Regions from separate parts of the Homo sapiens genome. Here regions 1, 2, 3 and 5 are each reported to be linked to region 4. The links are microRNA targets in miRTarBase. Many come from high-throughput screens and were not tested one by one. Region 4 holds a microRNA gene; each other region holds the end of a gene's coding sequence.
Evidence for each region. The annotated mature microRNA hsa-miR-3680-3p reads UUUUGCAUGACCCUGGGAGUAGG and lies in region 4 at 1,571-1,593, shown strand. An mRNA with a match to its seed (bases 2 to 7 or 8) in the 3' UTR can be bound and repressed. Matches are read on the target gene's strand: a 7mer-m8 pairs with bases 2 to 8, a 7mer-A1 pairs with bases 2 to 7 and ends in A, and an 8mer does both.

Region 1: the mRNA of ARHGEF3 is a reported target of hsa-miR-3680-3p. Seed matches in the 3' UTR shown: 7mer-A1 at 3,346-3,352.
Region 2: miRTarBase lists ETS1 as a target of hsa-miR-3680-3p. Seed matches in the 3' UTR shown: 8mer at 2,903-2,910, 8mer at 2,049-2,056 and 8mer at 906-913.
Region 3: miRTarBase lists CLOCK as a target of hsa-miR-3680-3p. Seed matches in the 3' UTR shown: 7mer-A1 at 1,010-1,016 and 7mer-m8 at 741-747.
Region 5: the mRNA of SPRY1 is a reported target of hsa-miR-3680-3p. Seed matches in the 3' UTR shown: 7mer-A1 at 3,288-3,294.

The regions. Positions count from the first base shown.
Region 1 is chr3:56,724,655-56,729,761 of GRCh38, forward strand. It overlaps ARHGEF3 (Rho guanine nucleotide exchange factor 3), which reads right to left. Exons shown (of 10, transcript NM_019555.3): 10 at 2,766-4,968. The coding sequence ends at 4,616. Among named protein-coding and RNA genes, the nearest start is that of TASOR, 44 kb to the left of the region's middle.
Region 2 is chr11:128,458,008-128,463,114 of GRCh38, forward strand. ETS1 (ETS proto-oncogene 1, transcription factor) reads right to left here. Exons shown (of 10, transcript NM_001143820.2): 10 at 758-4,569. The coding sequence ends at 4,354. Among named protein-coding and RNA genes, the nearest start is that of MIR6090, 62 kb to the right of the region's middle.
Region 3 is chr4:55,431,005-55,436,111 of GRCh38, forward strand. It overlaps CLOCK (clock circadian regulator), which reads right to left. Exons shown (of 23, transcript NM_004898.4): 23 at 1-4,590. The coding sequence ends at 4,411. It also overlaps a transcript of TMEM165 not described here. Among named protein-coding and RNA genes, the nearest start is that of TMEM165, 38 kb to the left of the region's middle.
Region 4 is chr16:21,502,550-21,507,656 of GRCh38, reverse strand. It overlaps MIR3680-1 (microRNA 3680-1), which reads left to right and starts at 1,522; the gene lies at 1,522-1,608. All of the region lies in intron 1 of LOC124903662 (a long non-coding RNA gene), which reads right to left. RefSeq lists an enhancer at 4,642-5,107.
Region 5 is chr4:123,401,816-123,406,922 of GRCh38, reverse strand. SPRY1 (sprouty RTK signaling antagonist 1) reads right to left here. Exons shown (of 3, transcript NM_001258038.2): 3 at 3,168-5,107. The coding sequence ends at 4,372. Among named protein-coding and RNA genes, the nearest start is that of SPRY1, 7.6 kb to the right of the region's middle.

The sequences.
Region 1 (5,107 bases), not on the chromosome of region 4:
CTGGCAACAGAGAATAAAACACTTGTAGGATGTCATTTTCAAACCTTTCACAGATGAGAGAGCACAGTTCATTAATACCTAGGTATGTTTGCATGTGGACAAGCTTTGGAATGCATGTCCAGTTTCCTAGGCTAAGTGATTAGCTCTTAAAGATACAGTGCATGACTTCTAATTCCTTGCTATTCCCTCACGTCAACTGAAAACTGCTTTGACTAGGTAGGTCTGTGCAGCTGACTGATATATGAACCAAGCCTGGAGAAAGGAGATATGATGTCATGAGCATTTTTTTTTCCAACTTGTTTCCCTCAATACCCTTCAGGTACAGTGAATACGGTCACCTTTTCTCACTGTGTGCTCATGCGGACAAGGTTTTAAATTTTGATGATTGTCAGATTTTTACTGGTAGGTTTGGGCTTGGGTAACCCTCTTCCCTTCCAATAGTGTAGTTCTAGAATTCTGTCAATAAACAAGCTAGTGTGAATTAATTGAATCAGCTGCATCAATAAGGGGGGGTATTCAGTGTCTTCTCTCCTCAATGCCAAGGGGAACCAGGTGAGTGAAACTGATTGGCCAGACAGTTTCTTTGCCAAATCTTTGAGAGTCCTCAGGCTTTGGGAGAATTAGTAAAAAACGGACATGGACAGAATGTAAATGGAAAGTTGAACAGGCTCTTCACCAAGATGGTGGGTTGCAGTTTCCTGCAGCCACACAGTCTTTGTTGAAACAGGGCTGTGGTTATGAAGAGTTGTGCATTCTTAGCTGCCGCAGACTGTGCTGGGAATGGAAACTAAAGCAGTCAGTGGCGGTGACCACAACCCAGAAGCTGAAACCATGCTCTAATTTTACAGAAAATTGCTAGTTCTGGCTCTGTTCATTGCTTATGAGTTTTCATTTAGACTGCAAGGATTACATCTAGTTGTATGTGAAATAACATCTTGAAAATTGACTGAAGAAAAACCATTTAGCCCTCACTCATTTGTACTAACCCACAAAATGTCAGTACAAACATCTTCTAATATACTGTAAGATACATCCTTTAGCATTGACAGTCAGTACAATTATAGGAGTGAAAAACAGAGGGAATAGCCAAAGCAGCAGTGAGAAAAGAGGACGGACAAAAAAGATGAGGAGGAGGAGGAAGAAAAAAATTAGGAGAAGCGACTTTGCATTTGGGAAAAAATTTGGACTTATATTTATTTATGTGAATATCTTGCCAAATTTGGGAATTAACAGTATGTTAAAGAAAATGGTGAGAGCTGGCCGGGCGTGGTGGCTCAGGCCTGTAATCCCAGCACTTTGGGAGGCCGAGGCAGGCAGATCACAAGGTCAGGAGATCGAGACCATCCTGGCTAACACGGTGAAACCCCGTCTCTACTAAAAATACAAAAAATTAGCCGGGCGTGGCAGCGTGCGCCTGTAGTCCCAGCTACCTGGGAGGCTGAGGCAGAAGGATGGCATGAACCCAGGAGGTGGAGCTTGCAGTGAGCTGAGATCGCACCACTGCACTCCAGCCTGGGTGACAGAGCGAGACTGTCTCAAAAAAAAAAAAAAAAAAAAAAGAAAAAGAAAAAAAAGAAAATGGTGAGAGCTTATTGTAAAGATAAGACTAACTACCAGCCTTATTGGGCCAATGTGCTATTGAGAATTGGCTACTAACAGCTTAAAAATGTTTAGCCTTTTCATCTAAAAAACCTCACTCATTGTGGGACAGAGTACTAATCTTTTTTTTCTTTTTTGAGATAGGTTCTCACTCTGTCACCCAGGCTGGAGTGCAATGGTGTGATCACAGCTCACTGCAACCTCTGCCTCCTAGGCTCAAGGGATCCTCCCGACTCAGCCTCCTGAGTAGCTGGGACTATAGGCACATGCCATCAAGCCTGGCTAATTTTTGTGCTTTTGTAGAGATGAGGTTTTGCCATGTTGCCTAGGCTGGTCTTGAACTCCTGGGCTCAAGTAATTCACCTGCCTTGGCCTCCCAAACTGCTAGGATTAGAGGTATAGCCACTGTGCTCAGACTAGAAAGAGTACTAATCATTTTAATTAAAGTAGACTGAAATTCCAGTAAGAATTTCAAAGTGAAATTTGCCTTCTTTTATTTAGCCTCAAGTTCCTCAACAGTTACCTATATTAGCAGTGAGATTCAACATTTCTTTTCTATAACAACTATGACTTACCACTTGACTTTATACATAGTATGGATTCCAGATAGAGTTATTAAAAGTGAACACATAAATAAGTGAATGAATAGAGAATGCTTGAGAAAACAGATTTTAGAATTATGAGTTCTTGGACAGACTCAGAGGCTTACGCCTGTAATCCCAACACTTTAGGAGGTTGTGGCAGAAGGATCACTTGAGGCCAGGAGTTCAGGACCAGCCTAGGCAGCATAGTGAAACTTCAATCTTTACAAAAAATTTAAAAATTAGCCAGATGTGGTGGTGTGTACCTGTAATCCCAGTTACTTGGGAGGCTGAGGCAGGAGGATTGCATAAGCCCAGGAATTTGAGGCTGCAGTGAGCTATGATCACACCACCACACTCCAGCCTGGGTGACAGAGTGAGATCCTGTTTCAAAAGAAAGAAAGAAAAAAAAAATGAGTTCTGTGAAAGTTTTGATAGATCAAATAAAAGCATTTGTATCAATCTGCATCCTATTTTAAAGTTTGTATTCAGGAACCACAAACAAAAATTTCAGAAAGAACCTCCCCAGGAACACAGCTGAAACCTGTATTTTGTTTGTAGGACAAACACTGTACACATGGAGGATGACTTAATAATGTAATTTATTTGAAATACTTCCAGAAAAGTTTAAGGCCATTATACAAAAACATTCATTTCATCAAAACATTCATTGACCACCTTCCCATAGGCCAACACTTGACAAACCTCTTTTCCCAACACACTGGCTGATGGCTTCTAAAAGTGGCTGATGGCGCCTACAAAGAATCATTCATTCTTTTCTTCACCAATAAAGGCTGTTCTTGGCTTTCCTCTGCTTCTGTCTGCAGCAGGTTCACTTGCTGTATCAATAACGACTTGAGAAAGCAGTTTTAAATAAACTTGTAATAGAAAAAATTCATCATGTTTAAGACCTATAAATACAGAAATATGTTTTACAGGGTAAAATTGATCACAATATCCTTGTTTTCAAAAAATAATAAAGTATATACCTTGTTTTTATATTGATATATCTTGTCACACAGCTTGAATGCACATGATATATGTACATAATAAAATGACATCAATGCATTTACTGCTTTCTTTTCTGTAAACTTGAAAGACAGATTAAAAAAAACTTTTTGGCAATAATTTAGAATAATTACCACTAGTGCTGGTGTGGGTATAATTTTGCACAGGTCATCCTTAATATTTACACTTGCAGGGAGCTCTTCTAGGTACTTAGCTGTTTTTAAGGTCTGCACTTTACCCTGCACTGTAAATCAAGGCTGGACAAAGAGGTTACTAATCTGGCTAGCTGATTCTAATTAATCAGAGTTAATGAAATTGGCCTCTGGAGAACATAATTACAATTCTGATTATAGCACAGAACCAGAGATGGCAAATTGACGACCCAAAAGCAGAGCAGGAAAGCCCAAAGCTCTGGCCTTTCTCAGAAGGCACTGGACCATGCTTTTCTCTCAATGGCTCCCACAGAAGGTTCTGACGAAGTGCTTTTCATTCCAAATTCTTCCTCTCCTGTGTTTCTATAAACAGTGTCATCGATAGAGTCATGGTCTCTCTTCCTTGTTGCTTCATTCATTCTCTAAAATAATGAGTAGGCCTAGGCAGATGAAACACAATGAATACAGGGCCTTCTTGTTATCCTGGCAGGCCTTCCTAAGCCCTTTGGGTTCTATTCTGATGTTTTAGGCTAGCAACCAACTATGAGAGACACCTCCTGGTGCCATGTGCATTTCAGTTAAAGATTCAGAGCTGGCAGCCGCTTCTGTCCTGGCCCTTTTAAGGTCAGCCTCTATTTTATGTCCTAATACATTCTTGCATCAAACTTGCACTGGATGAAGTTGCAAAGTTCAGACAATGCATCCTCCTTTGCAAAATTAAGCCTTCAGAATCCCCAGGGATGTTTTCAAGCTTTCTAGTTGAGTAAGATCAAACCAAGTTCACTTCATGAGTTGGTCTTTCCTGATTCTCTCTCTAATACCATCCCAATACACAGATGAGTTCCTCATGCCCTATTTACAAGGCCGTCTAAATTCCGTGCCTTTAGCTACCACATCTAAGAGCTGGGAAAGTGGTACAGAAGCACAAGAGGAAGGACTCTTCAAACAATCTATGTAAAACAGTAGTTTTGAGATTCTTTTTCTATTTTTTTAAAATCCAGCAGGACAACTGAAAGTAACTTGTTTGAGTACCTCTCCATCCATCCAGACACTTGGGAAATACAACACAGGGTAATAGTTGCCACAGATTCCAGCTTACACAGACAGATTGGCAGTTACAGTACTAGGGACAAAGGTACAGATACGAGAGACTGGGCCAACATGTATACTTTCACAAAAGTATGAAAAAGTGCTTCTCCAAACCGTTCCATCTGTGGAATGCAAATACTGTACAGGTAAGATGCAGGCCTGCTTCCCGAAGTGCACATGCTTCTGTCAGACGTTACTTTCACCGTGCCTGCTGTTTCCACAGGAAGAGTCTGTCTGTTCCATGCGCTCACAGTCGAGGCTGACCTCACTCGTGTCCATACTACAGTCTGACTCACTGTCCGATTGGTCCATCTGCTCAAGTTTTGTTTCTCCCTGTAGCTCTCTGCTCCCGGTGGTGGGATTTAGGAACGATCCCTCGGAGTCAAGCACCCCAGCTTGCCCGGCAGCACACAAAACTGTTTCTTTGGCTTGACGAATACAGTTAAGCCACTGCTGTTTGTTGAAAGTGTCATTGGCTTGTAGCGAGTGGGTCTGACTTTGGGATCCATTTTTGAAACTGACTCTGAAGAAGTTTTTAACTAGAAAGGAAAAACACATGAAAAACAAAGTCAATGGACAGATCCTTCCTCAGGCCAAAGAGAACACACGTAGTGACACTAAACCCCAGAATCCATGGCAGGTATTGCTGATAACAAAACGTTTCCCACTGATCTGGGG
Region 2 (5,107 bases), not on the chromosome of region 4:
CTCCAGGCCTGAAGAAACAGATTTTCCAAAAACAGAGCTCTCTTTGTGAACAATTCAGCAAAAATTCTCTTTCCAGCTGTGAGCTGGGATTCATGTTGCAAATGTTGGTGTTAATTAAAAACATCCACCTTCTACAGTTTCAGCAACAAGGAAAAAGCACCATGCATGAGGTGTTCCTAAGCACTCCCCTCCAAAGCACTTATAAACATGATTTTATTTATGGCATGTGTTGCTAGGGGTTCTGACAGATATTATTATTCCCAATCTTCAGCCCCAGTGAAAGAGTTGGGGCCAAGGAGATGGATGTGAAGGGCCCAAATTGCCATAGAGCAAAATTAGTATCAGTGGTGGACACAAGAATACTGTTCATTTCCCACAGGATCCACTAAAGATGTTCAACTTTCTGTATTCATATCAGGAACGGTACGTAGCTGAAATCAAATGTTTATCTGTTGAGTCATTAAACGTTTCCTTCACATGGCTCTTAGTCCTTCGGACATGAAGAAGTGAGGTCTGACAAGGCCAGGGACATTCCACAAAGGATGACACAATATATTCAAAGATTGGGATGTTCGATGACTTCCCTATATTCCTGTTATATTTCTCACCTTATTAGGAAATCTTTATCTCCAATGGTCCTGAGCTAGTGAGATCAGAAAGACTAAACTGCATCCCTCTGTGCTTGCCTCTGGTTGGTTGATTTGTCCTGCTTTAATACATGATCCAGACAAGAAAGAATCAAGCCAAAGCCACAGCATTATGAATGAAATTCTTTGTTTTTAATTTCACACAGTTTAAAATACAATATGAAATCAGGCTACAGTATATAAAAAACTCTCCAGCAAAATGATGTGCCAGCATCAGCTACTAAAATAAACAAACAAAAAACTCCGCCATAAGAATTTTTTTGCATTTTTTTTTAAAAAAACATCGACACTTACATCGCTACATCTCTAAGCTACCTCAGTTCTGATTTTTAAAAAGCACCTGCTTTTCCTTTTTTTCATCTTGCTTCTAAATTTTCAGCTTTTAAAAAATATAAATTATATGAAAATACAAGTTGGAAAATAGTCAAACACAATATAACATCTTTTTCATCCCTATACTTCTCAGCTTAAAAAAAAAGTATTCTTAAAAAAAAAAGTTCAATAACTGAGGCAGTATTCCTGATAATTTTATTTTAATATATATATTTTATATATGTATATGTATACATATATTTATGGTTCCTTGAAACTTCTTTGGAATGTAGGTAAGAGTTCAACAAATTTATATAGACCCCAACAGAGTAAGCGGCATGCACAGCATGACTAGAAGAGAGATGGTGTATTTCTCACCATGAAGGTTAGGCAGGTTAATGCTGTAAAACCCAGAGTGTTCATCTCCAAAGTGAGGAAAAGCACATCTGATCTTTGAATGCTACCTCCAATCCCCACAGCCACAAAAATCAGGGCTCTATGTAGGGGAAGTCCCTCTCCAGAATGGAGAAGGGAACAAAAGTGACTCTGAACCCTAAAGCCAAAACCAACAAAGGTTAAGGCATCTCTGGGAAAATAAGGGTTTCACCCAGCTAGACCAGATTTGCCCATCCTTCCTCTGAAGTTAACGTGTGTTTTTAAAAAGCATAAACGCAACATTTCCAGTGTATAAACCACCCACCACTCTTCCTGGGATGGTCTCTGGCCTTTGGACAAAGGAGAAAAAACATCTGGCCAGATCGACAAAGCTGTCTTAACTAATACACTATCTACAAATCTTGAAAATGGTGGACTTAGAGAGAAAGGGAATTTTAGCAAACAAGCGGGCGGAGGAGCACTAGGAGGCACTTTCTTATATCTTATCTGCTATAGGAACTGCAGGAGTTATACTCACAGAAGGAGAGTTTCCGGCATAAATTTAATAGGAACGGTGGATGATTTGAGAAAGTGATTTTATGCCTGGTTGCAAACAGCAAGCAATAATTGATACCCGGCCCTGGTTCTACTCTTACCCATTATTGAAATGTGGAAAGACTTACCTAGAAATCTAAGGTATTATTTCAGCTGCAGTTTTGCATGTCTGCAAACACACACACACACACACACACACACACACACACACACACACACAACATTCACACACATGCACACATTCACACACACACCTTTTGCCAGTGCCCAACAAAAATCACATAATCTAAGAGAAAACAATGTAGTCCAAACAGTTCCACCCAACACTCCCTGAGCAGCTCCTAAAATATTTTGAGAGCTTCATTAAGGCACCTGCATCCAAAAGATCAAAATAATACAGCTGGGATAATTCTGCCTTTGCTTTCCATATGGATGCTCCAATTCATCAGTATGGGGACACTCATGAATCACAGAGCTATGTTCCTGATAATTCTGGGTCTGCAAGAGGATCTGGGAGTAAATAACAATCAATTTTCTTAAAGATATGCTAGAAAGTAGTTAGTACTTCCAATTTCTCATCCAAATCCCAAAAAGGGCCAGCCCTGAGAAGCTTACCTGAAATATTTCTTTCCTTCTCTCATGGAAGTCCATAAAAGCCACCCCTCCTCCTTATCCTTTCAACTGGGCAACTATAGAGTGAGGGAGATTCTAATTGTATTAGGCACTTTTCCTCACTAGTTAGATGTTGACTTTTCCTCTAAAACTCCATTTTCAGATTCCCCCTCACAACCAGCAGAAAGATGACTACCTTGCTTGACTATGTTTGTATTTAAACCTTGGGGGAACTAAAAATCTATTCAAATCTCATGGACAACCTTATTTTCCTCACTGAACCTCCTTCCTTAGTTTCCTTTGCCTTCAAGTCATTCCTCTCTTCTGGAATTAACCTTCACTTACCCTGTGCCAAGACATCAGACCCAAGCAAGAGGCCCTGGCATCACCTGTGCCATTCATTTTGCATACACAGTCTCACCTGACATCCTACCGGACTAATTTAAATTCTTCAAAGGAAAGCCTTGCACTTCTCTTCCAAAGACAGCCAAGTCACATTTTATTGAAATGCTCTCTTAATTTCCATCACTTCTAAAACTCAGCAAGTCTAAACTCTTCAACTTAGGTCGTGTCTCAAGTTACTTTTTCACTCACCAATCAGAAAGCCGTACACTTCTCTCTACTGAATAACAGAGTTGGCGGTGAGGGGGTGCAAAAAATGGAGGACTCTTGGAAAATAAGACATAAAAGAAAAATTACAGAGTGTTAGTTTGGAACGACATGCATTCAGGACTTATTTCTTAGGACCTGAGGGGTAATGCCCATGCATACAGCTTTTATTCCAAGTCATCTATGCTACAGATATAGGACTAAGAAAGAACCAAGTCAATCTTCCTCCTTCGATCTCCCTTCCAGGACTTCAACAGTGCTCCTACGTTTACTGTCGTCCAAAACCAGGGATGCAAAATACATTCAGTTCAAAGACTTAATGCTTCTTAGCTCAACATTAAGTCCAAACCCCGAGAATCCACTGATAACAAGTAAGTAAAGGGATGTGCTAATTTTTTTTAATTGTAGATGACATTCACACACATAATTCCCCTGTACCCAAATCAGCATTAATTGTCCTTCTTATATAAGTCCCATGAATTTGGGATCCCTGATCTCAGTGAGAGCGTTTTGCTTTTCCAATGGGGTCTATATAAACAGTTTTCTTTCATTGTGACAGAATCCTCAGCCGGCAAATAAAAACAAACTTACATGATATTGCAATACTGAGACCACCTTAGAGCTTAAGACGATTTTTAAGAAAAAAAATACTGGCACAAAATTTAATAAAATAAATTTTAACACAACAACGGTTTTGGCCCCTCCCCACTGAAGTCCATCTTTGCTTCAAAACTAGAGTGATAGGTAAATAGTTCTCAGATTTTCAGTGCATCCCCCCCCAAAACATGTTTCATCCCACCCACCTCTTTTTTGCCCTCCCAGACCTAAAAACAGAAGCAAATTAATTGCCTTACATCAGTTTCATGAGTTCTGATGTGACAATGTCACTTGCTAATGGGTCCACAACTCAAGACACTTTTTCATGGATGATTTTTAAAAATGATTGGACACATTAGTCTCTTTCTCTGTTAAGCCAGAGCCTTCAAGCTTCTGAGAAGGCCCTTCTCCCTCTCCTGAAAATTTGCTCAAGAATTTCTGGTCCCACCCACCCCACAAGTCCTGGCTTTCCTTTCCCAACTGCGCACAATTGATTACAGCTGCAACTGACTTAGCTCCCACCCCTGAAGGTAAAAAATGAGTTCTGGAAAATAAAAAATAGAATAACAATTCAAAATTCAGAGTCCAACCAACACGGCTGTCCTTGGAAGGTCTCAGCAGGGTTTCCCCAGCCCCTTCAGTGCCATCACTCGTCGGCATCTGGCTTGACGTCCAGCATGGCGTGCAGCTCCTCAGGGGTGTACCCCAGCAGGCTCTGCAGGTCACACACAAAGCGGTACACGTAGCGTTTCCCCGCTGTCTTGTGGATGATGTTTTTGTCGTAATAGTAGCGTAGGCCACGGCTCAGTTTCTCATAATTCATCTTAGGTTTGTTTTTCCTCTTTCCCCATCTCCTGGCCACCTGAAATTTAAAAAGAAAAATAAAGGAGGAGTAGGCAAAAATCTACAAGACAGGCCAAATATATATGTTTCTATGCCTATGCTATACCCATTCATGGTGACCCATGATGCTCAAGTAAGATGATTTGAGATTCATGTAGATATAGAAAATATTTTTCGGGCCTATCTCCTGAATTCCATTTTTCATGGGTTGGGCAAGGATGGGAGTCACAATGATTCTTTAAGTTGATGAAAACACAGTGACCCTGAACTAGGATTAAATATGTGACTTTAAAAAACAAACAAAAAGCCACACTATACATTCTCCTCTTTCCGCATATTATTAGTAAAATCTCCTTGCTTTGCAAGCATGAAATCTAACAGGGAAGTGTGAAGCGGAGGAGCTGAGCTGCAATCATACCTGCCTTTCATCAACAGGAAGTGTTTTTTTTCCATACCAGGGCACAAATATTTTCTCATGTCTGCCAGAACAAAGATGTTGTCTCTCCTGTTCATTGTTTTTTATCCTCAGAATTGGGCATGGCACGGAACCACTACTC
Region 3 (5,107 bases), not on the chromosome of region 4:
CATTTTATATAATTTCACCTAAGTAAGTGATGATTTGGGGATCCTTTAGAAATGGTTAACGCCTAAGAATAAACTTTATCAAAATGAGTAATTGCAATAAAGTGCTTGTTACATTTCAAAATGATGCTTTTAGACTGTGGTATGTTGTTTTAAAAGTGTGTGCTATTCCTTCCGTAAAGGATCCCCAGGCATGAGAGTTGGGTCTTCTCACCTGTCTCATAAAGCAGCAGCACTATCTTTTGGTAGGCTGACAATAGGCACATTACCCATGCGGATGAGGCTATACTAGTGCTATGGCAAAAGGGGAAGTAAATTAGAAAAGTGGGAGGCATGTAGAGGGTTCCTATTATAGTTATATACAAATATATTAAATATACTATAAAAATAGTCGATTCTATTCCTTTGCAATTACTTCAGAAGCTCCTTTTAGAAGAAAGCTCACCCAATCCAAACTTAAAAGGTTCTCTTTCTCCAAACACTTAAAATGGCAAGTGCCTTTGTGCTGTTTCTTCTCTACCATTCAAAAATTCCAATCAGCTTGTCCTGGCTAGAAAGACTCACTCAGCAACATTAATATCCAGTGTTTACCCCCTTCCAACAGGGACTCCTGTGGGACTAAGGGCCACAGGTAATTGGAAAGGTTATAGACTTGAATGCGTTTTACACAAATATTCATCAACAAACTTTCAATTACCAAAGAAACAGAAAGAAAAAAGCAGAAATACTAAAGTAAAATGCTATTTGCATTCCACTTTTAAAAAGTTTGCCTCAATGTAGTGGAAACATCTGAAAACATGTTGAGTAATATCCAGTTTAAAAGAATTTTCACTTGTCTGCGTAGAGTACTATTTTAAGGATCCCTTTCTAAGGCTTCCTGAACAAGGGTTCTTCTCCCTTCAACAGTGCTCTTGATGGAGCTGGACTGCTTCAGTGCTCCTAGCGTCAAGCAGACTGCTTTAAGGCAATGACCAACAACTACAGCACTTCTGAAGACCAAACATTTTCACTATTTTGCACTGAATGTTCTATAACAAACTATTCCAAATCACTGGCATCTTGTTATTACTATTCCATTCCTAAGCCAGATATAAATGACAAAGGAGAGCACAGCACTGTCAAGTTACCCCCGGAATTTGGGATGCTCGAAGGCTAGACCGTAGTATTTACTCACATGCTACCTGCATCTCCCATACTTTTCTCCAATATTTTCCATTCAAAAAATGAAGTACTTTTTAAGTGTCTCGGTTCTGGTTTGACACCACTCTAAGGAGCAACTTTATTAACCCTTCTAGTTCTCACTTGCATTTGTTAAACAATACTGACTCTCCCAAAACTATGATAACTGCAAGTCCAAAGCACGGTAACTGCAGAGTAGCTAGCATTTTTCCTGAAACTCAGTAGTTTCTTACCTAAAAAGTACCACCCAGAATAAGTGTTTTTAAGAAAGTGAGAATAAAGCAGAGGGAAGACTTTTTTTTTTTTTTTTTTAAAGCTGGAAGGTGTTTCTATTTGGTATCTTTAAATGCTATAGATTTGGGATTTTAACTAACAGCTTTGGCTATAGAAATGAAGAACAGACACTGCTGAATCTTCATTTGAATGCTCAAGTTTCATGGGGCAGGGTGGGGGGCGGGATAGCTTTGCAACCCAAATTTAAGAGAATCAGGAGGAAAACAAAGCAGCAAAGAGGCAGCTGGTGCTTACTACCTCTTCCACTACTACGCTTCAGACTGACAGAAAAGCAGCTAGCTGCTCCTTTAAATTAGCAATGGTTAATTCTAAGCAGGAAAAGATGAGCTGCGAAGAACAGTAAGAATCATAAAGGAAAATTTTAATTTTTTCCCCCGACTATTTGTGGAGATGGGAAATAATTGAAGGGGCTGGAGTAGGACAATGTGAGTAAACAGTTTAGACGTTTACCTGGGGCTTGTCTTATGCTTTGTTGCTGTCAACCTAAGTAGTACTCACAGTTCACCATCTTTTAAGTGTGGTATGTAGAGGACAGGCCTCAATATAATAGTTCTTCATATCTTTTGTTAGCTAAATCCGTATCACTAGGTATTGCCAATAAATAAATGAGGCACAACTCAGATATATATGGAATGGCATAAGGTCAAGAAAGGCAATTTGAAAGGGGAGAAGAACAATGCTATTGCCATATTCCACAACATCCCCCTTGTCTGTGTACATATGCTCAGGTACATACATATTCTGACAACTATTCTTGATATTCATGGGAATGTGGGAAATCTCTACTGGATGGTCATTTAGCTAGAAGAGCTCCTTGATATGTTAATTACTGATTGATATCTAGTCACACTTCTTTTGTAGAAGGGTAAGTACCAATTTTCTTTGGTTGTTTTCTTTTTCAACATTAATGTTCAAAGTAATTGTAGCCAGGTAGAATTTTCTGCAGAAAGACAAAGTATATGCCTTAAGGATAACAGCAAAGCAGAGGACAGAGAAGTCTTAAGAACTGGCTTAGCATTCCCCTGACCTCTTTACCTAGCAATTCTGCATTAGGTTAATCTTCATTATTCAGAACCTTTTCTGTTTTAACAACCTCAACTCTGTTACACATTTTCTTTTGAGGTCAATTTTGATTTATTACACTTGTCCTCTCCTCCCTTTCCTCAGTAATAACATTTTTTATATTCTAATAATGTATTTTCTACTAATCCTCTTTTGTTCTATCACTGTAAATTTCATTAGTACCATAAAATCTGTAAAATGTTTTTTAAATGTATGTAACTTGTATTGGAATTTATTACTTTTAGAATATGATATTGCCAAAGGAAATCTTAGTTCACGTTTAGAAGGCATGTGAGTTACAATATTCTAATGTTGTAGTGAAGGCATAGCCAAATCCCTACCCCTTCTTTTTTCTTTGTAGGAATATCAAGATCATATTGAGCAAATATTTCTGGTAAATTCTTAAATGACTAAAGAAAAATGCTGATTTAGGAAACAATTTTAGGATCACATTAATAACTATGATAGTGTTAGGTTATCATCTTTTATTTCTAAATTATTTGTACCTCCAGTCCAAGAGACTGATAGCAGTCTTCAGAGGAACTTATTAGGAGACTAATAATGACACTGACACCCACATGCTGTTAAAAAGGTACTAAGGTTTCAAAACTGCTACGGAAACCGGACAATGACTTCAAGATGGTGAGTTATCACCTGAATTAAAATCAAGGCACTATGGGGTTTTTTCCCCTCAAATAACCCTGAATCATTTCTGACTAAAAGAAGCATTGAAATTGTGAAGGATAATAAAAAAGATTTCAACAAATCCCAAAAGTTAAAATTCCCATGATTGAGAATGTTAAAAAGTGCCTAAGATGTTTTGTGTGCAAATTTTACCTCTATAACTGAAACATTCTTGAAATTACTTTCAGGCTTGTTGAAAACCATTTACGCAAATATTTCCAACTATGAACTATAACAAAATATGCAATCAAAACTCCCAGCCACCTAAAATAAAGCAGTGCAAATCCTATTTTCAAACATAATTGAAAAATAATGAAATGAGGGATATTTCTGAATAACTTGAAAATCCTGTTGTATCAATAATTTAACCTGAAAAAAAAAATCCATTCCCAGCAGCACATCATACCTCACTGAACAAACTGTGACATCACAGCCAAAGTATGAACAAAAAAACTTGTGCCCCGGAAAAGTGAACAGAACACTACTGTGTTGTAAACAAAAGGAAAAACAGGATGGATCAGTTTGCACATGGTGTCAGAATTTCAGGAAAGGTGCTCACACCTGTAAGGAAGAGATAACGCTTTCATGCAGCATACAAAATGTTTTGCTTTCTCTCCTTTTATCTAGACATATACATATTTTTACATCATCTGTACATAGAGAATTTGAACCCACACAACATTCTGAAAGTAATTACTGTTCCATCATTATCTGAAAAGGGAGAGGGGTTGGGGGAGGGGGTCGCTACCAAGTCTACTGGACTGTCTTCATGGCATCACTGTAAGCAAACCCCTGACATGGCAGTGGTATGTCCTCTGTAACACTTGATAAGAGGCACAGAACCACTAAAAGTTACTAACATCATTAGTGCCTTTCTGATTCCCTGGAGGTCATTTCATAGCTGAGCTTCTTAATATTTGGCAATATATTCTTTTTCCATCAAAAAATATCCAGGCACCTAAAACACTGTCAGAACTGGCTATGCCCCTATGATCACCTCCTGCTGGCTGGTATTTAATGTACATCTGTAGCACTAGGCAGCATTTTCTCTGCCAACTAATTCCAGGAACTAGAACACTCAATACTGCATCTCATGAAACTGCTGGAACTTTCCCTCCTTTCCTCAGGTCATCTGAGTAACTCTTAATGGGCCATCCCCTTCCTCCCTTGATGTCAAGAGAGGAAGCACGTGTGCTACTGTGGTTGAACCTTGGAAGGGTCGGGCAAGCTGTCAGTCCTGTGCCGGCTGAGTTGCTGCTGTTGCTGAGACTGATGTTGCTGGTGATGTGACTGAGGGAAGGTGCTCTGTTGTAGAGGAAATGCAGCAGAGAGAATGAGTTGAGTTGAGGGATTCCCATGGAGCAACCTAGAAGTCTAAAAAACAAATGGATTATGCAGCATTGCTTTACTCCCTTTATGGCACCCACATAATAGTTACTCACACTCTCCCCTGTCCATAGGGACAAAATCCTTAAAATTCTACATAATGCATATCACTTTCACTCTCTGGTTTAAAAATTCTAATTTGGAAAATGCTTATGAGGCCTTCCCTCTTTCTGAAAGTATGAGAGAGTTTCATTTTTTAAAGGAATCTGAGCTACAGATTTTATGGTATAGAAAGCAATCTATATCTTGAGCCAAATCACACACGTTCTTTCACTTTATGTCCTAAAGACCCATATTTTAAATTACAAAATTTGAGCATAGTTATGACTATATGAAAAACAAATACTCTGAGGCCAGACAGACAATGCCTTCTGCACACAGGTTCGCTCAGCTGGTTAGAGCGGCACAGTTAAGTGGCCAGGAGCGTGGTGGGCCCTGAGGTAGACTGAATGGTTCAAACTTGGGCTGCCCTACTTACCACATGTGTGACTTGGTCAAGCTGTTT
Region 4 (5,107 bases):
GATGGTGGGGGCTGTCTGTCGGTGGAGATGGTGGGGGCTGTCTGTCGGTGGAGATGGTGGGGGCTGTCTGTCGGTGGAGATGGTGGGGGCTGTCTGTCGGTGGAGAAGGTGGAAGCTTGTACTCAGAGCAGGGGATATTTAGACTTGAAGGGGCCAGGGAGGAAGGTACTGGTTCTACTAAGCCCCATGTTCACTGGGCAGCCACTAAGTTAGGGACCGTGTGTGTACCGAGTGGATTCCGACAAAGAAGCTGTCTCAGGAGCCCCAGCCAGCTGCAGAGGGGGGCCCAAGCTCCAAGGCTGGGTGTCAGGTTTGCCAGGTGCTGGCTCCGCTAGGGGCCGCAGGCTGCGCTGGGCGGGACTGGGCTGGGCTGGTACCTGTGCCCGGTGTCAGGCCAGCTGTAGTTGCAGCGGTCAGCTGCCGCTCTCTGGCCCTGTGCGAACTGCTGTGCCAGGTGCACCCTGGGGGACCAGGCTGCCTGGGCTTCCTGGAACTGGTGAAGCTGCCGCCACTTCCTCTATGCTCTCTCCAGCAGGCAATTCTGGGTAAACGATCTTCATTTGCCTATAAAGCTGCACAGCTCACAGGCCTTGGACCGTTTCTGCCCCAGCCCCAGCATTGGCCCTTTGGACAGACTCTGAAACCGTGCGCAGAACGCACCCTGTCATTACAAATGACTCCTGGAGGCAGTCCCCGGGGGCCTGGCAGGAGCACCTGTGTTTCTGTGGGGTCTGAAAATGACAGACCAATCGCTTGAACCCGGGAGGCGGAAGTTGCAGTGAGCCGAGATCGAGACATTGCCCTCCAGCCTGGGCAACAAGAGCAAAACTCCATCTCAAAAAAAAAAAAAAAAATCTTCACAAATATAATTTGTAATGGCTGCAGAAAATTTCAGCTCTGAATGTACTGCATCCTAATCAGTTTCCTATTGTTGAGCATTAGTATAGTTTCCAGGTGTTTTGTTTTTGTTTTGCTATTAATAAGTAAAACTGAGATGAATACTTCTGTATCAATCTTGATCCTTATTTTAGATAATTTCCATTTCATTCCTCCCATTTCTTGAGTGCTTCCTATGGTCAGGTGCTGTGCTGTGTGCTGAGTATGGAGGAGGTAGGCTGAGATAGATGTGACCTTTGCTCTTGCAAAGCTGATATACTAAGGGTTGGACAGATGCTAAATGTGCAAAGAAACCCAATACTTGCAGATGGTGCTGGGTACTACCAAGGAAAGAAATAGGGTATATGACAGAGTACCTGGAAAGGGCACTGGCCAGCTTTTATGGGCAGGGAGGTCAAAGCAAACCTGTCTGGAGATGAGACAGGCCAGGAAAATCAGGGCAGGGGCCAGAGTAGGGCAAATGTGGTGCCTAGAGCCTCATTTTTTTTTTTAGACGGATTCTCGCCCTGTTGCCCAGGCTGGAGTGCAATGGCAGGATCTCGGCCCACTGCAACCTCTGCCTCCCAGGTTCAAGCAATTCTCCTGCCCCAGCTTCCTGAGTAGCTGGGATTACAGTACAGCCTCAAATTTAAGGAGGGACTCACTCACAGGATTGTGCAAATGCAAAGTTGGCTTTTGCATGACCCTGGGAGTAGGTGCCTCCTTAAATTTTGCACCCTCAGCAACTCCATCACCTGTCACTTTGCTAGTCCCAACCCTGATGGGAACAAATGCAGGGAAGGCATTCCAGATGGCGGGAACAGCAAGTACAAAAATCCAGAGGCCAGAAAGGCCTGGTGTGTTTCAGGAACAGAAACTCGGCTCCCATGACTGAAATGGAGTAGGGAAATCCTAATGGAGCCAGAGAGGCAGAACCACCAACAGGAAGAAGAAAAAAATGTTGGAAGTTATGAGAGTTGCTCACGTTTGATTCATTTGATTTATTTTATTGAAATGGAGTCTCACTCTGTTGCCCAGGCTGGAGTGTAGTGGCACGATCTAGGCTCACTGCAACCTCCACCTCCTAGGCTTAAGTGATTCTCTCATCTCAGCCTCCCAAAGTGCTGGGATTACAGGCGTGAGCCACCATGCCCCACCTGAAGCAATTTCTTTGTTGTCTTTTTTTTTTTTAACTTCTCTCATAGAAATAATTAACCCTCAAAAACACTCAGTGTTGACAAAGGGTGGTGTGAGGACACAGAAAGTATCACACTATCATTGGCAGAAACTTCCTGGAAAGCAACTTAACAGTCTGTATCCAAAGACTTAAAATCATTAACAGCCTTTTCCCCAATAACTCCACTTCTCGGAATCTATCCTAAGGAAATCTGCCACAGCCAGAGTGATTTTTTCCGTCCCCTTAAGAAATGGTCTCATCCTGTTGCCCAGGCTGGAGTGCAGAGGCACCATTATGGCTCACCACAGCCTGAAACTCGTGGGCTCAAGCGATTCTCCCACCTCAGCCTCCCAAGTAATTGGGATCACAGGCATGCCTCCACATCCATATGCCTAGTTGGATAATATTTTGACCAATAAAGAAAAAGAGGGCCAGGCGCGGTGGCTCACGCCTGTAATCCCATCACTTTGGGAGGCCGAGGCGGGCGGATCACGAGGTCAGGAGATTGAGACCATCCTGGCTAACACGGTGAAACCCCGTCTCCACTAAAAATACAAAAAAACAAAATTAGCCGGGCTTGGTGGCGGGCGCCTGTAATCCCAGCTACTCGGGAGGCTGAGGCGGGAGAATGGCTTAAACCCGGGAGGCAGAGCTTGCAGTGAGCCGAGATTGCGCCACTGCACTCTAGCCTGGGCGACAGAGCGAGACTCCTTCTCAAAAAATAATAATAATAAAATAAAAAAATAAAAAAGAAAAAGAAAGGTAGTACCAGAGATTGTGTCCAGTTGCTCAAGCAATTTCTAACTTGTCTAATTTTAAAAATTTTTAAATTTTTATACAAAATTAGCCGGGCATGGTGGCATGTGTCTGTAATCTTAGCTACTTGGGAGGCTGAGGCAGGAGACTCACTTGAACCTGGAAGGCAGAGGTTGCAGTGAGCTGAAATCACACCATTGCACTCCAGCCTGGGCCACAAGAGTGAAACTCCGTCTGAAAAAAAAAATTTAATATTTTTTTTGTAGAGATGGGGGTCTCACTATGTTGCTCAGGCTGGCCTATAACTCCCAGGCTCAAGGATCTTCCAGTCTCAGCCTCCCATCACTGGAATTACAGGCATGAATCACTTCATCTAAATGATTTTTTTTTTTTTTTTTGAGACAGTCTTGCTCTGTCACCCAGGCCGGAGTTCAGTGGCACGATCTCGGCTCACTACAACCTCTGGCTCCTGGGTTCAAGCAATCCTCATGCCTCAGCTTCCCCAAATAGCTGGGACTACAGGCGTGCGCCACCATGCCTGGTTAATTTTTGTATTTTTTTGTAGAGACGGGGTTTCACCATATTTGTCAGGCTGGTCTCTTGACCTCAAGTGATCCACCCACCTCGGCCTCCCAAAGTGCTGGGATTACAGGAGTCAGCCATCCATGGTGCCCCGCGTTTTCTCTTTCTTCTTCTCCCTCCCTCCCTACCCTCCGCAGCCCAGCCTGGAGTGCAGTGGCAGGATCATAGGTCACTGCAGCCTCCACCCGCTGGACTCAAGTCATCCTCCTGCCTCACCCTCCTGAGTTCCTGGGACCACAGGCACGCGCTACCACGCCGGGTAATTTTTGTAATTTTTGTAGTCCCCATCATTTAGAACTGGCAAGATCCTCCCTTAGTGAGGGATTGGTGGCCATAAGCAAGGAGCCCAAGGTGGAGGGGATATGCATGTGTGTGGAGGTGTCAACTCCTCGTAATCTTCAAGTACTTTTGGTAACAATTTTTAATTGCACAAGCGATATATAAAGACGTTTTCTTTGCAACATAAAATGATAGGTTAAGACTCCTTATGCAGATAAGGTTTAGGCACTTGTTTAAGGAGCATCCTGGCCCACCTTTTAAAAAATGTGTATGCATTCACGTTATGCATCAGATGCTTTAGGGAATTTTTTTCCCTGGGGCATGGGGCATGTCATGGGGTAGACAGTCAGGTACGTCTCCTCTACCCAGCTGATTCTCTTTTTTTTTGGAGATGGAGTCTTGCTCTGTCGCCCAGGCTGGAGTGCAGTGGAGCGATCTCTGCTCACTGGGAGCTCCGCCTCCCGGGTTTACGCTATTCTCCTGCCTCAGCCTCCGGAGTAGCTGGGACTACAGGCGCCCGCCACCACGCCCGGCTAATTTTTTGTATTTTTAGTAGAGACGGGGTTTCACTGTGTTAGCCAGGATGGTCTCGATCTCCTGACCTCGAGATCTGCCCGCCTCGGCCTCCCAAAGTGCTGGGATTACAGGTGTGATCCACCGCGCCCGGCCTTCTCTCTTTCTTTTCTCCTTTTCTTTCCTTTCCTCCCTCCTTTCCTTCCTTCCTCCCTCCCTCCTTCCCTCCCTCCCTCGTTTCCTTCCTTCCTTCCTTTTTCTTCCCTCCCTGCTTTCTCTCTCTCTCTCTCTTATATTTTTTTGAGACAGAGTTTCACTCTTGTTCTCCAGGCTGGACTGCAATGGTCTGATCTTGGCTCACTGCAACCTCGGCCTATTGGGTTCAAGCGATTCCCCTGCCTCAGCCTCCCAAGTAGCTGGGATTACAGGCGCCCTCCACCATGCCCGGCTAATTTTTGTATTTTTAGTAGAGGCGGGGTTTCTCCATGTTGGCCAGGCTGGTCTGGAACTCCTCACCTCAGATGATCCGCCCACCTCGGCCTCCCAAAGTGCTGGGATTACAGGCGTGACCCACCGCGCCTAGCCCCCAGCTTCTTTCACCAGCAGAAGGCGGGCAAGCCTCAGGGTGAGAGGACTTCAAAGCACATTTCACATTGCAGAGGACAGGGTTTGGTGGTCGTGGGTACTCCCTTCCCTTCCATCGTTTAGTTTTTTTCATTGGGAAGAAATGGTAAAAGGTGCTAGGACTCGATGGGCACATTTCAGGTGGAGGTTGGGAAGGTGGATATCCACCTGTCGATCTGACTATTTTCACTTTCCACCCCGCCCCGTAGAAAGTGGGAAAACTGGCACACGTGAATCCAAGGGCGCGCCTGTGTGCGCGCGCACCCCAGGGCAACAGCCCGCCCCCCCCCCCCCCCCCCA
Region 5 (5,107 bases), not on the chromosome of region 4:
CCCAAAAAGCAAACAAACAAGAAATGAAGAAAATCCTGTGTCAGATGAAAGAGTTCAGGCTTTACCCTTGCTAAAACATGGACAGTTTTTCTTCTCAAGCCATGACTTTGTTTGTACATCTTCAAAATGAAGACAGTGAGCTACATAAATCAGTTCCAAAGTTGCCTGATACAATCACCCAAAAAGCTTTTTGAAAATAACGAATACCAGGCCCCCACCCCCGGAGATTATTCTAATACAGGTCTGAGCTATGACACACACTTCTGAATTTTTAATTTTTAAACTAGATATCTATTTCTTTTCATACATGATTGAGAAACATTAAGATAAACTCTAAGATATATTTCTAGTTCTAGAATTCTACTGTATACAGAATAATGCCCCTATGAGGTGTTCAATAATAGCAAAATGGCTTAGTAATAATCTGAGAGACTACTATAAGAATCAATAGCTATCAGGTAAGTATATACATGGCTATTTTGATTATAGCTAATCAGTGAAGTAATGGAAAAAACAACCATCCAACCATCAATTAGCCAAAAGGACTTAAAAATTTTGTTTTCAACATATTTAAAAACACCAACACTCTTGCCAATTAAAAAGAAAATGTATAGTGAGAGTTTAGGATGAGAACTGCTTTTAGACACTTTTCCAGTTTGTTTCAATATTTCAATATATTTCAAAAGGGATTGTTTTTTAATGAGATATCTATCTATAGATATCGATAGATAGTCTGCTACGAAATACACCACTCCATTAAAAAAAGATTTAGGAAAAATGGATAATTTCAAAAATTAAATCCTCTGGAAATTAATCACCTGAGTCTGGTTTCATTATCGATTTTAGGATAAAAACATAGTTTTAAACTTATTTTTCACTTTAAAGACCATTATTTTTAAAGCTTTAATTTTTATTTTTTAGTAATAATGGAAATATTTTGTGGTTTGAATTTTGGAAACCATGTAATTATAATCCTATATTTGCAGATTCACTTTAGGTCTTCACACACAAAAAAGTCTACTTTTTCACATTCCATTTTTTCTGCTAGGTTACATTTTATAAACTCTGTAAACAGGAAACTACTCAATTACAAAAGTCCTATGTTGGTTTATTCACTATTAAACTATCTAAATAAGGCTTGTTTGAAATGAAAAAATTGGCAGTCAGAAAATATACTGGAAAGGAACCAGGTAACAAAAACATCCATTCTGTCAAGCTGTACTAGTAGGGGAAGAGGGACAAATGTGTGGAATAAAAAGGTTATCCCATCTGTTTGGCATGTTGTTTTTCATTCAACAGTATTAAATAAGTGGCAGCGGCATTGTAAAAAATTTCAGCTGATGCTTTCAAAGTCTAAGCACTTTAAAATGATGATCAGCATTAGGTTCAAGAGCCTAGGGCCCATAAGCTCTTATGAGGACACACTCTTATATTTCTTCTTCCTAGGTTTAAACCATCACAAAGGAGGACATTTCGAATCAGTGTTTATGCTTTGCCACCTGACAAGCCTCTTAGAAATCTGAACCTCTAACCGATCGTTCCTTCCAAGTACAGACTTGCCATTATGCCAGAGTTCATATACAGTCCTCGAAGCAGCAGACCAGCATCTTAATATTTTTCATGTATTCTGCATATATATAGCCAGAAGTTAAAACTCCACAGCATACTTCATTCTCATAAAAGTTATAAATTTCTTTCAGTAAAAGCTACTGCTTCTTAGTCTGGTTATTACAGCTAAAGACAGCTCTGACTCCAACTAATTATACTAAGGGTCTGAATAATACCGGAAAAAAGCCCCAAAGAGTATTTTGAAGAAGTCTGTGTTCATATACTTCATTAAGAAGCCACATCTCAATGAAAATACTCTATAAATATGAAAGGACCAGTGATAACATCACATAACTTGAATATCAGAGGAAAACACTCAAGTTCACATTTTTAAGTGCTACAGATCATGAAGTAGCCTCCAAAACAACTATTTACTTTTAAAAATCCTCCTGCTTTCAAAGCATAAAGGAAATATTTGATGGATTAAATATCACATTGCCAACTAATAGGTTTAGCGGCTTGATGGAAAAGGACTAAAACAAGTTTCTACCAATTATACCTTGTCTATATAAAACAAAGTCAAAGCCTATTTACAAAGAACAAATACGTAGTCTTAAACTAACAGCCGAGCCATCCATGAATAATGACCAAAACAAAAAGCTGGATAAGAGCTTTGATAACCTGGGTTCAAATTATGTCAGTATCTTATTCTCAAATGCAAAGAATTATTTTCAAATGCAGATAATGACTGATGTATCACTTAGGGAGTTAGTGAGACTGAGGACTCACATGAATAAAATTTTATCAAACTTAAAAACGGTGTATTCTGAGGACTCAAATGACCAAATATTTTATCAGACCCAAAGATTCCAGCTATGTAGTGGTTTCACCAGCCTAAAAAATAAGATTTAAAACACTTTTTCTACGTAAAATTTTAGGCCTTCAGGTTTCTTATTGCACAGGACTTGATGAGGTGTAATTTGGTCAGGCCACATTAGACTTACGAAACAAGTGAAAAGACAGGGACAGGAATGTTTTTGAAATGTCTCTGATACTGTGAATTATTCCCTTGGTAACTTCTAGAATGCTTTATTAAAGTGACAGTACCAGCGACTCCTAGCATATCTACAGAACTAAGTTCATTAAGTCTAGCTGATAAATCTAACTTTTTATTAACTTAAAAGTTAGGATAAACATTTAAAAAAGCTTCTACTGTAGATATGCCCCATTTCAAGAAACTATAATATACACAAAACCTCATGCTTACAAAATAGTCAAAGTAGGGAGAGAGTATTACAAAAAATTTTTACTGTACAAAATAACTCACTTGAGCATTTGTTAAAAGATAATTTGGATTACAAAATTTTGATTAATGCACTTTCCAGGAAATACTAGGTTGGTGCAAAAGTAACTGTGTTTTTGCCATTAAAAATGACCCAAAACTGCAATTACTTTTGCACCAACCTAATTATCCAGTTCATAATTTGGGCTCACCTATGTCTAGATTCAACATCTATAGGGAAAGAAGTAAAATGGGTGTGTAAGAAGAAAAAGTCAAAGCAAATAAGCAAAAATCATCATAATAGTACAGGCTAATAAATGAAGAAATCGAGAGACAGTTTCATTAATTAATATATTTTCTGCATTATAGTTAACATATGTACTTTCTTCGTGTCACCTTATTTTCCGTTAAGTATTGATATTTTGTTATATTCAAACATGAGTACATTTCAACAGTCTTTTGCAATAAATACCATAAAATAATAGAGATTCGCATAATAAATATTCTTTACAATAAAAAAGTTTAACAGACTTTTGTCTTAAAAATAGTCAGAATTCAACTTTGTGATTTATACATAAAATATACAAAAAGCACCACAATTTGTGGTTAAGGCAAGGAAAACACAGAAGAGATTAGAATTACTCAGCTGTTAACTATCCAAGGGGCCAAAAGGACCATTAAGGAGCCAAGATCACTTTAGGCAGCATAGTTCTGTGACACATATAGATTGATCAGCTATAAATATCAACTTGAGTTATCCAAGTGCCCTCAATGACAACAAAAATTTGGTGAGAAGCATGGGGTGAAGAAGGAAGGTGGCTGAGTCCTTCACAAATACGAAGGCTAGAGTGAAGATGGGCAAGGTCCAACCAATATTATCTCCAATGTGAAGATTTACATTGTAAGGCGAATCTAAAATTACATAGAAAGAAAAAATACACTTGGCATCTCCAGAGTAAGACAACAACAAAACTGAGGGGGAAAGAACCTTGAAGGAGAAAGAAGGAGAGGGCAGTGGTTAAAGGAAAATTTTTACGTTATAGCAAAAAATATATCCCCCATGCTACTTAAGGGGCCTATGCTAGGAAGATAGCCCTAACTGGAGACAGATTTAATACATAGCTTATTTAAGCAATTAAACAGTTGCTTTTTAAAAAACCAATTTCCCTGCTCCCACGGTACCCAATCAAAACAACTCTAAATCACTGTAGTCTGGATGTGGGTGTATGTTCATGTACACAACTTTAGAAAGTTGCTTGCAGAACAAAAAGGCTACACAAAAGCCCACTGGCTCTCAATACCCTCAAGTGGATGGCAGAGGCTCTTGTTGAAAGTGGGAGCCAGGTGCAGCTTCCCAGTCCACTCTTGCTGAAGATCATCCATGAGGAAAGAGAAAAATCCATGAGTTAGACCTTGGCAACAGGGGAAGAGAAGGTGGGAAACAGGGAAAAATTCTAAAGAAAACAAAAACAAAAACAAAAACAAAAAACAGCCACAACTTGAAAGCTAAAAGTTCAGGAGGTACAACCCACCTCCAAAAATCATGATGGTTTACCCTGACCCCGGGAGGGGCAGCTCTCCAGCTTACAATAGACAGTGTTGGAGTTCTTACATCTGCACCCTGGGCGATGGATCCAGTCATAACACCTCCTGCACAGCTTCAGGCATCCTTTAGCAGGAGGATAACAGAGTAAGCAAGGTAAAAATAAAGACATGGCTCCCATACACAGGTATCTAGAGCAGCAGTGTGATTGTGAACAGGAGCAAGGATTATCTGAATAGGAATCCCCTTCGTCGTCATTGGAGCAGTGGTAGAAGATGCCCTTGACTAAGCACATGCAGGTTCCATATTCCACCATGCTCTCAGCAGAGCAAAGGCACTGCCGGTTACAGGCCAAACAGGATGGTAGGGTCCTGGGAGCAGTGCATTCTCCACACTTGCACTTCCCACACTGTTCACAAATGAACTTGTGCTGTGTCAGGTCCTCTTTCAAGGAACCCTTCAAGTCATCCACAATCAGTTGCTTGGGCTGGGTCCGGATTGCCCTTTCAGACCTATGACCAGGGACTGGTCTGGTTGGTGGTGACCTTCCTAACAGTCCCTGTTCAGAAGAGGCACTGCTGTTGCTCCCAGAGCTGGCTGCACTTCCAGTGCTGGTTGATCTGCTCAAAATGGGGCCCCTGGCATTACTTGGGAGTACTGCATGTCCCAGGTGGCTTGTGTGTCTGTGCTCGTAGTTATTATTCACATTAATTGGTATGATTTCATGAGTCCTT